4 separate regions of the Homo sapiens genome follow, and all the other regions are reported to be linked to region 2. The links are microRNA targets in miRTarBase. Many come from high-throughput screens and were not tested one by one. Region 2 holds a microRNA gene; each other region holds the end of a gene's coding sequence.

Region 1 (4,000 bases), not on the chromosome of region 2:
CACCCGGCCTGTCTTCCTTTTTTCAATACATCAGTCTTACGGCAAAGACAGCCCTCCCAGGATTGCCCAAAGTCCCTCCTGCATTTACCTCTCTACCTCGGTTAATAAGTAGAGTGGCTCACCACTGGAGGGTGACATGCTGCTGCAGAATCACCATGTTATGCCTGTGGCTCTTCTGAATATCTTATCATTTTCCTGTTTAAGAGAGTTCCCACACTTCAAGACAATATTGGTATTTTAACATAGTAGCATTGATTAATATATTTGTCTCCCGATGAATCACCCAGACACTTTGATTTGGCCACTGCATATCTCTGAACAGGAAAGCCTATACAGGTCGAGTGTGATTGGAGGCTGAGGCTCAGCCCTAGACACCTATTAATGCGTGAACTAGTCTTCAAGGGCAGACCTGGTTATAAAGCTTCTAGATCATCGGAGTTTGAGGTACTCCAAGAAAATGAGGGTGGTGTTATTTAGAGGAAGCTGAATGTTAACTCTTTGTAATATAAATTACCACATATAAGTTGTATACACACTCTCCATCTAAATTATAAAATTAGCTTTTTGTATATATTTTCACAAATCAAAGGTTACAGGTAATGATGTTCTTCTCAAACTTCAAAAGTGTGTGTGTGTTTTAATACAGTTCATTTGAAGGGCTCAGAGAATATCTACTCTTCACAGCGTCCTATATAAAATAGTTTCTGTAATCAGATCAACAGTGATAACTTGTTTTATTCCAGTGTAAAATTAAACAAGTGGGAAAATATCTCCACAGAAACCAGAAAGACACAATTACATAGTTTGAAGGAGGCAATTAGAATCCAGCAAACCAGTGGGTTTGTTAAAAGCCTATTTCTTGACTGTCAGCCTGTTCTCTTGAAACTACAATATATGTTGCTTTAAGGTATCTTTAAACAAGTAACTATTTTCTCTTAGCTGGTAGTGGATGATAATTCCATTTTAGAAATACTTCTCTACAACTATCCTCTCTCAACTCTGAGGCTCCTAGATAAACAATAATTTTATCCATGTCAAAAATAAACTAAGAAACAATCCGAATAAATTATAATAAATACCTTTACTAGTTGTAAAATTTTAATACCTCAGGAAATACCACAGTGTTCCCACTAATGCTATTTTTTAATTTTTTAATTTAGTTTGTCATAATTTGGTTTCATCAACTCCTTTGTTTTTTCCTTCTTTTTTTTTTTTTGAGATGAGGTCTCACTATCTTGCCCAGACTGGTTTCGAATTGCCCTCCAGCAATTCTCCCACCTCAGCCTTCAGAGTAGCTGGCATTGTGGGTAGGCACCACTGTGCCCAGCTCCTGTTTTATAATAAATAAGCCAGAGCTCTATCTCCAAATGGTGCAAATCATCAATGCTATTAAAACAAGAATGGAAAAGCTTCAGGTGGTAATGGTGATTTTTTCATCCTCCCTACCCCCCTCCCATCCCAATGTGTGTGTGTGTGTGTGTGTGTGTGTGTGTGTGTGTATAATTTTTTTTTTTTTTTTAAGACAGCCTCGCTCTGTCGCCCAGGCTGGAGTACAGTGGCTCGATCTTGGCTCACTTCAACCTCCGCCTCCCGGGTTCAGGCGATTCTCCTGCCTCAGCCTCCCAAGTAGCTGGGATTACAGGCATGCACCACCACGCCCAGCTCATTTTGTATTTTTAGTAGAGATGGGGTTTCTCCATGTTAGTCAGGCTGGTCTCCTGCCCTCAGGTGATTGCCTGCCTTGGCCTCCCAAAGTGCTGAGATTACAGGCGGGAGCCACCTCACATAAATTCTCTTGACTCCTGGGAAAGGGAATTTGCTTTCACCATATTACCCCTTCTTCCAGCCACTTCTCCCAGAATACTAAACTTTTAGCCTGTTTAAGCAGAGAAGTTGCCAGCCCCAAACAAAGTTGACAGCTGTGGAATTATCTTACTACTAATTGGCATCATAAATAACAGAAATGTTAACTAATATTGTTTATCCTCTCATATTTGGCACTGCCTTTCCTTTTAATTAGGTAAATAAACAGTTATAATCTTCATCTTCCAGGGCCCATTAATCAGCTATTGCTTATAGAATTCTTTAAGAACTCATTTAGGTTATGATTATGGAAATTAAATTTTTATGAAAGATCCTGGTAACAGAGTCTAAATTATTGAATTGCATAATTTCCCAGTAGTTCCTTTCCTTTTAATGAGCCTTAATTTAGTTTGACTAATTAAAAGCTTTGTCCAGAACTCCTCTAGTGTGAAGTTGTAATCTACTAGCATAGATTTTTTTTTTTTTTTTTTTGAGATGGAGTCTCACTCTGTCGCCCACGCTGGAGCGCAGTGGCACAATCTCGGCCCACTACAACCTCCGCCTCCGGGGTTCAAGTGATTCCCCTGCCTCAGCCTCCCAAGTAGCTACGACTACAGGTTTGCGCCACCACACCCAGCTAATTTTTTGTATTTTAGTAGAGACGGGGTTTCACCATGTTGGCCAGGATGGTCTCGATCTCCTGACCTTGTGATCCGCCTACCTCAGCCTCCCAAAATGCTGGGATTACAGGCGTGAGCCACTGCACCCAGCTGCATAGATTTTTTTAACAGTACAATATTAAAACAAAGACTGATGTTTGTGTGAATTATGATTCTTTATTCTGACTGGTGCCTATGAAAGCAATAGGGAAACATGTCTACTAATGAGTTTTGTCTTTTTCCACAGAGAAAGCTTGGACTATATTTCTGGAAGGCACCCACTGTGGGGTGCTGCTTGTTCTGTGGTGTTGCTGTGCAGCGGCCGGGAGGAGCAGAGGGCTGCAGGAGACCCTCTGAGATTCTGCTTTGTGCACATGTACTGCCAGCGCATGGCATTCTTGAGCCCATAAAGCAAGACTTCTCAGGCCCTGTGGTTAGCATCCCCCACACCCATATCAGCCACTAGCATTTTAAAGATGGTTTTAGGTGGGTACATAAGGGCCCAGAAAAAAAGTTTTACAATTATTTTAGGGGCCTGAACCCTCATGTCATAGCTAATCAGTGAATGAAGTTACCTTTTAATCCAAGAGCCTCATCCCTGTTTTCTTGGTACTAAAAACTTTCACCAATCTGAATCCTAGTGTCATACTCTAAACACGAACCCCACCCATCCCACTGTCACCAGATGGAGATCTTAGACTTGCAGGCTTCCAGTAGGGATTCTCCTGATGAGCGTGTGTACCAGTGCAGCTGGGCACAGTTGGGAACAGCAGGCTGGTCTTCAACACCTGGCTTCAGAGGCAGGGTGGGACTCCAGGCGCTTGCGCAGGTGGTTGGCAAAATCCACCTGGGTCTGGGACAGGACCTGGTTGATGATGCTCTTGGGCAGCCACCCCTGCAGTAGGAGGTAGGAGAATTTGGCCATCTTGTGGGTTTTGGCCCACTCTTGACACTGCACCCTATCACAAACAGGCTGCCAGGGGCTTGGTCTTCGAGCTCTGTTAATAGGTGCAGCCTTGGAGTTGCCCAGTCAAGGGCGGGAGGACTGCATTGCTCCTCTGCTGTCATGACTTTCAGAAGCACAAGACTGGCCAACAAGATGTTTCAGCCTGGTGTTCCCAGCTGTGTGACCCTGAACCAGTTATGTTGCCTTTTTCACCCTTCAGATCTCTGGACCTAAGTTTCCTTCTTTCTAAAATGATAACTACATATAAGAGTTGAACTTTGCTGTGAGACAGAAGAGGGCCAGGCGCAGTGGCTCACGCCTGTAATCCCAGCACTTTTGGAGGCAGGCAGATCACGAGGTCAGGAGTTTGAGACCAGCCTGGCCACCATAGTGAAACCCCGTCTCTACTAAAAATACAAAAATTAGCCATGTGTGGTGGCACACGCCTGTAGTTCCAGCTACTCAGGAGGCTGAGGCGGAAGAATCACTTGAATCCGGGAGGCGGAGGTTACGGTGAGCTGAGACCATGTCATTGTACTCCAGCCTGAGTGACAGAATGAAACTGAGTCTCGAAAAAAAAAAAAAAAAAAAA
Region 2 (4,300 bases):
GAGACACTGTCCATTATTTAGCAGGGTACTCCCAGCACAGCTCATGGCACATCAAAAGTGCGCAATAAACACGGGCTACTTGGATTGTTCAGCAGAAGATTCACGATGACAAGGCTCACCCTCCTGTAATCCATGCACACAGGAGGTGTTTTGAGAATTCACAACTCCGATATGCAATGGGTATGGGAGAAGGAGCAGTTCATTCTTCTGCACATGGGAGGGGGGTGGGGGAGGAGAGAGAAAGAAAGACAGAAAGAGAGAAAGAGAGAGAGAGGAGAGAGATTGATTGATTGATTGAGAGAGAGACAGATTGAGATTAAAGTGTCAGGTGCACGCCTGGAGAAGCAGTGCCAAGTCTATTCCCTAATAAAGTACTTGTTGTGTGTTCACTTAGCCTCATGTGCTCACTGAATGTGTGGTTATGGAGGAGGTGGAGACAGTAATGAAATGATGGCTTCCCTGCCACAGTCTGCATGGACTCGGCATTGGGAACGTACATGAGCAATGCAGGAGCTCATTCTCTTCCACCCTTCACCTGACTAGCTTATCACTGCCCCTAGCTAGCACTTATACTAAATCAGTGATTCTCAAACTTAAGTGAGCATCAGAATCAGTTGAGAGCCTTGGTAAAGTACAGATTTCCATGGTTTATGGTGTAGTAGGTCAGGGATGAGCCCAAGAATTGGCATTTTGAACAAGCTCCTAGGTGATACAGATGCTGCTGGCCCAGGGACCACACTGAGAACCACTGCTCTATACATAACTTAAAGAAATGAAATAATGGGACATAGAGGGGTGATGCAAAGACTCTACACTTTTAAACATGGATGAGATTCCCTCTCTGAATTTTTGTACAAGGCAATGGACTGGAATAGCATTTGTACCCAACTACGAAGAATGAAAGAGAGGGACAACCTGAATAGAAGGCTCGAGCATCTTCAAATCCATTGTGTTTGTGTGTATGTACAAAAGAAACAGCACTCTCTGGCTCACAGGTGATTTTCCTATGACCATACAAAGGTGAAGTGTCTTTTCTTCATATGCATGTGTGAGATGACTGACAAGTAGGGCCACTTTCCTTCAAGCTCTGGTGGCATAAGCAGCAAGTAGAAAGCCTATTGCCTTGCACACCAGACATGAGTGAGAAGATGCTGCTAATGACACTCATTATCCTATGCACACTGTGGCTGCAGCTCTGTGTAAGGGGAGACACACCTTTTGTAGTTCTCTAGCTGAGCACTGTTGGGGGGTTGGAGAGGGGATGATGGGAAGACTCACTCTCTGCTACATACGTATGCATGAACAATGTGGGCAACGGAAGTTCCTTCTCTTAAACATGCTCACTAGGCATGTGAGTATGAGTTCTGTGTCTTTCTTGACCACCCTGTCTCTCCATGTCTGGTGCATGACAGGAGCGCCACCCCTGCTTGTTAAAGGTGGGAATGAATGAAGGATGGGGATTATAAACAGGTGTTCTTCGCTCTATGCAGAAAAGGCTCAGCCGTGGAATGCTTGCCTGGGTGCACCGCATTGACACAGCACTTGCATCCAGGTACCAGGATTCAAGAGGGGGAACAGGACTGAAGGCCCAAGCAGCCATACAGAGTATGTGTGTGTGCACGTGTGCGTGTGTGCACATGTGCTCACATGGGTTTACAGGGAAGGCTCACCGCATATAGTGTGTTCATCTGTGACTGTACAGAAAAGTAATGAAAGGATCTCTCCTATACAGAGCAGCAAGAAGGAAAGTAGCAGTAAGAAGACTTCCCTCATTTAATCCCCATCTATAAGGGAGTTAAGGAAGCTCACTGGCTTGCACGCTGAGAATGGGAGAGAGGAGAGCACAACAGGCTCCATCTCCTACCCTTTCAGTAGGTGGGGTTCTCTGCATGCAGGGCCATGTCTCTGAGTGTGTCTGGTGTACAAGGATTGGGGACATTTGAGAATTTCACTTGAGCAGAACCTGCACATGCTTGTGCATGCAGACTGGGTAACAAGGAACATATAGATCTACTTCATTCTTTTGAACAGTGGCCTATTCATCCACAACATTTATGTATAGTGTGTTTATGAGTCCCTACCAGAATGTAGGGTAGCAACCTGTCCATTTTGATCCCTGCTATATCCTTGGTGATGAACATAATACCTGCTGTCTAATAGACACTTGAGTATCTGTGGAAGGAAGAGGAGGGAGAGTTGATGTGCAAAAGCTCTGTCCTTTTAAGTGTAGACAAGGCTTCTTCCCTTGGAATTCTTGAAAAGGGACAGTGAGTCAAGGCAGTACTGGCACACAGGCTGAAAGAATGTGAGTGATGCACCAGGTCAGAGGGACCACTCTGTGAGGACATGTCTCTGTGGATGTAACCAAGTCAGGCCCTTTCTCTTGCACACAGCGTATTTATGTGTGATTGTACTGAGGTTTAGTAGATTCTCCAACATGTATCTGTACCCCACCCACCCTGTACCCCACCCACCCTCAGGACATGCAGATATAATGAATGAGAAGGAGTCCATTCTCCTCCCTGAACTGTACACTCCATGAAGGTAGGGAACCAGATATGGCTCATTCTCTTGTGGGCCAACTGCCCAGGACAGCACCTGCAATAGAGTAGGTAGGTACTCAACAAATAGTCATAGAAAGGATGGAAGGAGGAGGTAGAAGTGCTCTGTCCTATGCGAAGATGTCACTCCCCCTTGCAGAATCCTTGCCTGGGTGCACTGCATTCAGAAAGCACTCTCACCCAGGTAGCAAGGATTAGAGAGGGGGAACCAGGACAGGAGATTCCAGTACCTGTACACCTCACATGTGCATCTAACAAGAAGGCTTGCTGTTCTTGCCTAGTGCATTAACCTTGCATTGAACTAAAGTAGAGAGAAGTTGCTTCGACAAGTATCAGGCTGGGTGCAGTGGCTCACACCTATAATCCCAACACTTTGGGAGGCTAAGGCTGGTGGACTGCTTGAGCCTAGGAGTTTGAGACCAGCTTGGGCAACATAGTGAGACCCCATCTCTACAAAAAATAAACACAAATTAGCCAGGCATGGTGGCACAAGCCTGTGGTCCCAGCTATTTGAGAGGCTGAGGTGGGAGGATCGCTTGAGCCCAGGTGGTTGAGGCTGCAGTGAACTGTGATGGTGCCAGTGCACTCCAGCCTGAGCAACAGAGCAATACTCCATCAAAAAAGAAAGAAAAGAAAAGAGAGAAGAAAAGAAAGGAAAGGAAAGGAAGGAAAGAAAGAAAAGAAAGAGAAAGAAAAAGAAAAGAAGGAAGGAAGGAAAGAAGGAAAAAACAAGAAACAAGTATCAATGTGACAGCAGGAATGAGAAGACTCACACTTATGGGTGGGTTAAGGTGGGAAGAGGGTAGATAAGAAGTTCCTATGTGGCCCACTCACCCTCAGTATATGCAGGGGCAATGAGTGGTGACAAAGTCCATTCTCCTCTCAGGCTATAATATCCAGGAAGGCAGGGGCGAAGTCTGCCTTGTTCATTTCTCTGTGTCCAATGCCCATCATGGTGCCCAATACATATTATTTGTGGAAGGAAAGAATGAATGAGGGTCAGAGAGCAGGCAGGCAAGCAGCAAGCAGCTGAGAGGTGACATACAGATCTTCTGTTCTCCACGCAGAGGGGGCTCACCCTCTCAGAATCCTTGCCCGGGTGCATTGCATTCAGAAAGCACTCTCACCCAGGGACAAAGGATTAGAGAGGAAGAGCAGAGCAGAAGACTCAGGCACCTGCACCCTGCATGTATATCTCCATATATATTTGACTTTCATGGTCCCATTCCTGCAAAGTATCTCTGTGTGCATTTGCTAAGACAGATGCCTCTCCTCAGGGATAGCATATGTATTCATCCCCCTGCACAAGGCCACATGGACATGCCCTCTCAGACAAAACCTCAGACTAGAATGAAAGATATGAGTGGCATCTTTTTCAGATCACACTTGAGGGTCTGCAGGTGCTGGATGTATTTGGGGCCTAGCAAGGAGGTTGGGACAAACTGTATGTGGGCACACATGTACATGCACATGTTGGAAGATGGTACAGAAAATTGGGATACTTCATTCTCTTCTGTTTCTCTGGTAAACTATAAGCTCACTGAGAGCAAAGACTGGCTGTGCAAGTCTCATCACCCAATGTGTGTTTCCCCATTACAGTATCTGACACATAGTAAGCTGGGAGTAAACAGAAAGCTCATGCTCTCAAAGAGGTGTAAGCTTGTCCAGGGCAATGATGAAGTTCATTCTCCCACAGGTGCCCTCTACAGAGCCCAGGGACCTTAGCTGTCTTATTTACC
Region 3 (4,000 bases), not on the chromosome of region 2:
TCTGTGACATCAATTCACCACTAAAACCCTTGATCTTTCTCTAAATAATAGATGTTAATTTGAGTTTAATGCATGGCTTTGAACATCTTAAGTTTATGAACTGGTACCTAAAATATCAAACTGTCCTGCTTTTGAAAAATCACTTTTATCACTATTTAAATCTCTACACAGATTCACCAGGCATGTAAACTCATCTGCAGAAAATGTAAACGTCATGTGACAGATCTAACAGGGCAAGTGGTACAGGAGGGAACCAGGCGCTACAGACTGTGTAATGAGTGTCTTGCAGAATTTGGCATAGACAGCCTCCCCATTGACTTGGAAGCTGAACAACATCTTATGTCCCCATCAGATGGAGATAAGGATTCCAGATGGCACTTGAGTGAAGATGAGAATAGATCCTATGTGGAGATTGTAGAAGATGGGTCTGCTGATCTGGTCATCCAACAGGTTGATGATAGTGAAGAAGAAGAAGAAAAAGAAATTAAGCCCAACATTAGGTAGCTGTAATGTGAACCAACAGAGCTGGCATGTCTGCAATTTACATTGACTTCCTGTATCTCTCTCTTTCTATGGTCGGAGTCTAGTTAACAAATTTATCACACTGACTTTAAAGAAATGATCTGATATAACTTGCATGCTTTCTGAACAGGCCATTGTATCCATTCTGAACTTTGTTGCCCTAAAATGTGTTGCTGCACTGGAAAGAAAGAACTAGCTTGAGTTGGCTTGATGGATGAACAATTATCCTCTTACTTTCATTACAATCCTCTTACTTTATTCCAGAGATACCTTTTTCTTTTAATATTGGAGGATCTACTTAGCAAACTTTTTTCAAAGAAAATACTTTAAATAAATTCACCACAACCAAACTTTATGTAAGACAATTTCAAGGTGTTTCAAAAACACATAACTACCAATGTTTAATTTCACAGGGAACCAGTTAAGAGCACATTTAAGGATCTGGCAACCCACCTTACTAAACAAATTAGTCTTTCTATTAATTTGAGATCTGAAACAACCTGTCATTACTCTGATATCCTGAACGTTTAAGGATTATGGAAGAAGACTAAAGTGTTTGAAATCATTCATATTTGAAATTTTTATCATTAGCTTAAAAATTACTCTCAGTATTGTTAAAAAAAAAAAAAAGTAGAGGCTGGCCAAAGATTATATACAGATATTTTCTTAAAGCAGGAAACTAATGTTGCCTAAAAGTCAAGGTAGTTTGTGAAGACAATCTGTCAATATGGTTGTCCATCTCTCTAAAGAAAAGCAGGCTGGGCGCTGTGGCTCATGCCTATAATCCCAATACTTTGGGAGGCCGAGGCAGGCGGATCACAAGGTCAGGAGTTTGAAACCAGCCTGGCCAACATGGTGAAACCTCGTCTCTACTAAAAAATACAAAATTAGCCGGGCATGGTGGCGGGTGCCTATAATCCCAGCTACTCGGGAGGCTGAGGCAGGAGAATCGATTGAACCTGGAAGGCAGAAGTTGCAGTGAGCCGAGATCACACCATTGCACTCCAGCCTGGGCAACAAGAGCGAAACTCCGTCTCAAAAAAAAAAGGAAAACAAACTAGGAGGTTCTTACCATATGTGAGTGATTTCTAACGTTTATGTAGTGCTATATTATTTATAAAGTACTCTCTCATGTATTTTCTCAGTGAGGTGGATACTATCTCCGATTTACAAATGAGGAAATTAAGGTCAGAAAGTCTGAGAGAGAAAACTGATGATTGGACAGGATCTGATTTTAAACAATCCTCTTTCAGCCTTCTCTCCCTGTATGTCTCCTGAAATGGCAAAGAATAGAAGTCAAACCTCACCAGTTGGCAGTCATTATAAAAATAAGCCAATCAGAATTAGAAAGTATGAAAGGAGGAATTGAATCATTTTCAACAACATACAATATCTTGATCTAGAGATTTTCAAATAATGCTAAGTAATGTCCCTACAGTACCTATTGGTATGTTTTTATGTCACGTTATTTATATGTAAATTTAAAGTATAAAACTATTTGAACAAATTATTCACTTAAATATGTTGAACATTTTTGCTTCTCTTGTTTATATAATATTTTCAAAACAAACTTTTCTCCTAGTATACAAAGTTTAAACTTCTCCCCTTTGGGCTGGGCCCAGTGGCTCACGCCTGTAATCCCAGCACTTTGGGAGGCTGAGGCAGGTGGATCACCGAGGTCGGGAGTTTGAGACCAGCCTGACCAACATGGAGAAACCCCGTCTCTACTAAAAATACAAAATTAGCCGGGCGTGGTGGTGCATGCCTGTAATCCCAGCTACTCAGAAGGCTGAGGCAGGAGGATAGCTTGAACCCAGGAGGCAGAGGCTGCGGTGGGCTGAGGTTGCGCCATTGCACTCCAGCCTGGGCAACAAGAGCGAAACTCCGTCTCAAAAAAAAAAAAAAAAAAAACTTCTCCCCTGCATAAATTATGAAACATTCCAAAATTACAGCTAAATTAGAGAAGCATTGTTTCAGTTCTAAAGGTAAAATCTAAATATCCGAAGTAAAGAACTGAGCTTCATAAAGGTCTCTTCTGCAAGTTATCACAGTGAAGCTTGATAGAATTTCACTGTATATGGAGAGGCTCCATCTATTTTACTGTTTTCTTTTTTGTTTTTGTTTTTTTTTCGAGACGGAGTCTCGCTCTGTCGCCCAGGCTGGAGTGCAGTGGTGCAATCTCAGCTCACTGCAAGCTCCACCTCCCGGGTTCTCGCCATTCTCCTGCCTCAGCCTCCCGAGTAGCTGGGACTTACAGGCGCCCACCACCACTCCCAGCTAATTTTTTGTATTTTTAATAGAGATGGGGTTTCACCGTGTTAGCCAGGATGGTCTCAATCTCCTGATCTCGTGATCCGCCCCCCTCGGCCTCCCAAAGTGCTGGGATTACAGGCGTGAGCCACTGCGCCCAGCCAATTTTACTGTATTTTTAAATGCCATGACATACCTCAAAATTATCCTTTTTATGTTACTATTTTCTCTTGTTCTTTCATTAATTATTGTCCTTGATACCAATTTCTAGGCTAAATTGGTTACTTTCTTTTAAAAAATTTAAAAATAGATGAATAACCACTTGTTTCATGGTACTTAATTGAGACTTTTTCAAGATTCCCCTGATGGCACATTTGCAGTTGCTTCAAGACTGGATGATGTGCATTGAGTTCTCTGTTCTCCCAACATGGCTGTTCCTAAATCAGGATTCTGGTTTTTTTGAGATGGACTCTCGCTCTGTTGTCCAAGCTGGAGTGCAGTGGCGTGATCTCGCTCACCACAACCTCTGCCTCCCGGGTTCAAGCGATTCTCCTGCCTCAGCCTCCTGAGTAGCCGGGACTACAGGCATGTGCCACCATGCCTGGCTAATTTTTGTATTTTTAGTAGAGACAGGGTTTCGCTATGTTGGCCAGGCTGGTCTCGAACTCCTGACCTCGTGATCTGCCCGCCTCAGCCTCCCAAAGTGCTGGGATTACAGGCGTGAGCCAGCACGCCCGGCCTAAATCAGGATTCTTAACAATTAAAGTGTATCTGAATGAGGAAGGAAACGCTTGTCATTCTCTAGTCTTACCCAATTAATACTGACACCTTTTGAAATTAAAACCTGATTTTTTAGTTGTTGGAGCCAGTAGGAAAAATGGCTGATTTGAACTTTTTTCCTATAAATGAAGTAGTGCTTGCATGTGTGTACTCTAATGCACTTTAGTCTATGATCTAAATGTCCTTTTATGCTATTATCTTCTGCATGCAAACTTTACATACATCAGCATGAATATCCAACATTCACTGAACACAGTGCCACCAGCACTTGTAATTGCCTTTTCAGAAATAATGCTTTCTCATAATTGTTTATAACGAGCATCAAACTATCCCCACAAAATGATCAAGTTCACCAAACTAGACAAAGAATCTGTTGTATCATTTTAACATCATAGAAGAACATTTAAGACATGTTTGTAAGTTGTAAATAATGACTCCAGTTATAGCA
Region 4 (4,000 bases), not on the chromosome of region 2:
CTGGCCACTCTCAAGGGGCTGGTAGCCCAGATGTCTGATGGAGGAAGCGCCAAATCAGTCTTTGGTAACAACATGGATAAAGGCCTGGGTGGGAGGGGTAGAGAGGCTGACAAAGGCTTCCTGAGGGAGGGCCCAGTCTGAGAGGGAAGTACCTTCTCCCCAAGACTGATGATTTAAATTCTGACCTGCCCTTTGCATGATACCTTCCCAGCCTGGGAGAACTTGTTGCTCAGTAAGCAGACCCAGGTGCTGGCCTCTGTACCCACCATGGCCTCTGCCCTCATCACGACCTCTACCCCCAGGAAAGCTGATGGGCATGAATGAGATCACAGAGAAACTCATGCTGCCAGACACCTGTCGGAGTGACCACATTGTGGTGCAGAAAGTGACTGCCACTGCCAACCTGGGTCGTGTTCCTTGTGGGACATCTGATGAGTACAGGTACTAGGCCACCAGTAGAGGGGAAATGATGAGCATGGGGGCCCTGGTTTGAAGGAGGAGCCCCAGCTGCTGATCCCCTTCCAAACACAGTCACCCTTAGCAGCTCTTCCTCACCCCTTCTATTCCCACCTCAGGTTTGCAGGGAGGACACTGACTGGTGGAAGCCTCGTTCTGCTGACCCTGGATGCCCGGCCAGCTGGAGCTGCCCAGCTGACTGTCAACAGCGAGAAAATGGTGATTGGCACCATGCTGGTAAAGGATGTGATACAGGCTCTGACCCAGTGACTTCCAAATGCTGTGACCTGTTTGGCTCCCATCTATACCTCCCCATGACACCTAGGCTGTCAGTCTCTCTCATCTTTCTCTCTCTCTCTCATCATCCTCCTCATGCCAGATAGCATTCAGGGTGTCCTCTCTCCCTCTGGAGGACCAAGCCCTCCCCTAATGCCCTCCCCATGGATTCCTTAGTGATCTGTGCAGAGAGAGATGGCAGCCACTCCCTTCAGTCCTCCCAGATTTCTGTAGCTATTTATGTAGCAGGCTCAATAAAATGTCTTCTCTCTAGCTGCTGGCTCACCTTTCCTTCTAGGGGTTTGTCAGGAACAACTCTTGTTGAATCCCCAAGGTAACCATCTCTGGGTCAGGATGCCTAGGAGTCTGCAGGCATCTCTGTGGAAGAGACATCTGGGCTGGGGTGGCAAGGCAGAGCTGGAAGAGCACCTTGGTCCTTTTTATAGCCTCTGCAAAAACAAGTCCTCTTCAATGGCTGGCAGACCCCCTTAGTTCTTCTTACGGTCCCTTGGGAAGGAAGGACTCATAACATGGGGACTTCCCCAAACACAGGTGCTCAGTTCAACATATGTCAACTACTCCAGTTAGGGGGCCTGGAGGCCCCACCTGGCTGGGGTACTGACCCACTGGTCATCTTAGTGGAAGAATAGAAGATGCATAACTGTACTTCTCAAACCACTTTGTGGCAAGTCACCTGGGGATCCCATCACATGCAGATTCTATTAGTAGGTCTAGGGTGGGGTCTGAAATTCTGCATTTTTTTTTTAAGTGAAAGCAGCCGGGCGTGGTGGCTCACACCTGTAATCCCAGCACTTTGGGAGGCTGAGGTGGGCCAATCACGAGGTCAAGACCAACATGGCCAACATGGCGAAATCCCATCTGTACTAAAGATACAAAAAATTAGCTGGGCATGGTGGTGCGCACCTGTAATCCCAGCTACTTGGGAGGCTGAGGCAGGAGAATCGCTTGAACCCAGGAGGCAGAGGTTGCAGTGAGCTGAGATCGTGCCATTACACTCTAGCCTGGACGACAGGGTGAGACTCTGTCTCAAGATAATAATAACAATAATAATAATAATGTGAAAGCAAATTTATTAAGAAACAACAGAATGGCGACTCCATAGGCAGAGCAGCAGATTCTGTATTTGTAACAAGACACCAGCATCTGCTCACACCTGGAACAAACCTGGTGGGTGCAGTGGGGGTCAGGGCTCTCCCTGACACCTTTTCTGGTGAAGAAAGAGGCTGAGTGAGCAGTGGTTCTAAAACGTATAAAAGGTGTTCCATTAGGATGTGTTCTGTACCCTCCCGCCCCCTGCAAAGTCTATGATCAAATAAGTTTAGGAATCTTGGATTTAAGTGAAATAAGTTCATTTCCTACAGGTCTTCTCAGAACTTTTACTATGCTAATGTACACTGTGACCACCTCTCAGCCTGCAGTGTTACTCAAACTTGGTTTTGATTTTGGAACACTTTCCTCACAACATCTTGATTGACTGGGTTACAAGGAACACACTCCAGTTAGTTTGAGATGTTGAACCTCAGCCTCTGATCCTCTGTGACCAAGACTTTAGGCCCTTGGCCATACTGTCCCTCAGCCCTGCCACTTAGGCATCCCTGAGCATGTCTGTTCATGGGTAAGATGGGGTGAAGCAGGTGTGGCTGTCCTCTCACAGAAGGAGAACAAAGGCAGTGCCAGGGGACAGCCCTGCCTCTGGCTCCAGGGACTTGCTGGGCACTGTGACACCAGAGAGCTGCTGGAGCTGCTGCTTCCCTGAGAGCCTGGGGCCCCAAAGTCTCCCTGGGATCACTGTTTTTGTCACTGCAGATTCTGAGATGGTCCTCCAGTCAAAAGTAAGATTCAGTCTTACTTTTGCCTCTGAATCAGCACTACCCACAGCACTGAGAGAGGGTGAGGGTGATTTTCTAAGAAATTTGAACAAGGACCATCAGAGAATCCCTTACCCACCTTTATTCTATATCAAAAGCCCCAGAGTAGAGCTGGGCATGTGTCTGTAGTCCCAGCTACTCAGAAGGCTGAGACTGGAGAACTGCTTGAGGCCAGGAGTTCAGGGCTGTATTGCACTATTATTACACCTGTGAATAGCACTCTATCCTGGACAACCTAGCAAGACCCTACCTCTAAAAAAAAATCCCCTTTTAAAAAAATGGGATTCTGTAGGAACCAGAAGTGCAAAAGGCAAGTCCCACAACATTCCTCAAGTACAGTCCAGGTTCCCAGAACCTCTTGGAAAGGGCACTGGGATTTCCAACCCTGAGAGTCCAGAGAGTTGGAACCTTCACGGCTCTGTGTTGGTGTCTCTGGAATGTGTCCCAGGCTTTGGCATTAGCAGTAGCAACTCTTCATAAGGAAATGGTTCTGGTGTTTGACCAAAGAGAGAGGCAGGAAGCAGGAGAGCAAGGTGTGGGCAGGGGAGAGTATGACTGCAGAAGGAGCCCAGCGGGGAGTGGTGTGCTGCTGGTGAAGGCTGGGCTGGGAGATTGGTGGGGCAGCAATTTCCCACCCAGGAGGAGCATGGGGCCTGTTCTGTGCTGAGTGAACGGTCTGGAGTGAGAGAATCTCAGTCACAGAGGAAGGGGGAGTGGTTGCCCCAGCTCTCGTTCCAGCCCAGCCCATCTCTTCCAAGGCCATACCTCCCACAACCCTACCACATGAGCATACCTGAGCGAGTGTGCAGGGATAAGATGGGGGCCTGCCCAGCACACACAGGTGGAAGCAGGTCAGACCTGCAGGGGCTGGGGGCCCCCACATCCCCCGGGGGCATTTTCCCCAACCCATATCGTATTCTGTATTTTATCACTGGCCCAAGTCTTTGCCACTGTGGTGACACTTTGTCCCCAGGTTATTAGGGGCCTGGTCACAGAGTGTCTGGATCTCAGTTGGCAGGGAAAATGCTTCCCATGAACAGCCTTTTTTTTTTTTTCTTTTTTTTTGGGAGACAGAGTCTTGCTCTGTTGCCCAGGTTGGAGTGCGGTGGCACAATCTCCGCTCACTGCAACCTCCGCCTCCTGGGTTCAAGCAATTCTCGTGCCTCAGCCTCCTGAGTAGCTGGGATTAGGGATTACAGGCGTGTGCCACCACGTTTGGCTAATTTTTATATTTTTAGTAGAGACGGGGTTTCGCCATGTTGGTCAGGCTGGTCTCGAACTCCTGACTCGTGATCTGCCTGCCTTGGCCTCCCAAAGTGCTGGGATTATAGGCGTGAGACACTGCACTCAGCCTAATTTTTTGTATTTTTAGTAGAGAT

The links. Region 2 holds the annotated microRNA hsa-miR-500b-3p (GCACCCAGGCAAGGAUUCUG, at 2,698-2,717, opposite strand). A microRNA usually pairs through its seed, bases 2 to 8, with sites in the 3' UTR of a target mRNA and lowers its output. Matches are read on the target gene's strand: a 7mer-m8 pairs with bases 2 to 8, a 7mer-A1 pairs with bases 2 to 7 and ends in A, and an 8mer does both.
Region 1: miRTarBase lists STAR as a target of hsa-miR-500b-3p. Seed matches in the 3' UTR shown: 7mer-m8 at 2,567-2,573 and 7mer-m8 at 2,434-2,440.
Region 3: miRTarBase lists ZBTB8A as a target of hsa-miR-500b-3p. The part of its 3' UTR that is shown has no 7-base or 8-base seed match.
Region 4: miRTarBase lists AP3B2 as a target of hsa-miR-500b-3p. The part of its 3' UTR that is shown has no 7-base or 8-base seed match.

Annotation. Positions count from the first base shown.
Region 1 is chr8:38,141,030-38,145,029 of GRCh38, forward strand. It overlaps STAR (steroidogenic acute regulatory protein), which reads right to left. Exons shown (of 7, transcript NM_000349.3): 7 at 1,671-3,357. The coding sequence ends at 3,244. Among named protein-coding and RNA genes, the nearest start is that of STAR, 7.9 kb to the right of the region's middle.
Region 2 is chrX:50,009,139-50,013,438 of GRCh38, reverse strand. It overlaps MIR500B (microRNA 500b), which reads right to left and starts at 2,767; the gene lies at 2,689-2,767. The region is part of intron 3 of CLCN5 (chloride voltage-gated channel 5); the gene reads right to left. It overlaps MIR501 (microRNA 501), which reads right to left and starts at 3,717; the gene lies at 3,634-3,717. MIR660 (microRNA 660) reads right to left here and starts at 198; the gene lies at 102-198.
Region 3 is chr1:32,599,916-32,603,915 of GRCh38, forward strand. It overlaps ZBTB8A (zinc finger and BTB domain containing 8A), which reads left to right. Exons shown (of 5, transcript NM_001040441.3): 5 at 172-4,000. The coding sequence ends at 504. Among named protein-coding and RNA genes, the nearest start is that of ZBTB8OS, 49 kb to the right of the region's middle.
Region 4 is chr15:82,656,286-82,660,285 of GRCh38, reverse strand. It overlaps AP3B2 (adaptor related protein complex 3 subunit beta 2), which reads left to right. Exons shown (of 27, transcript NM_001278512.2): 26 at 303-441; 27 at 576-1,005. The coding sequence ends at 726. The region is part of intron 3 of CPEB1-AS1 (CPEB1 antisense RNA 1); the gene reads right to left. Among named protein-coding and RNA genes, the nearest start is that of CPEB1-AS1, 11 kb to the right of the region's middle.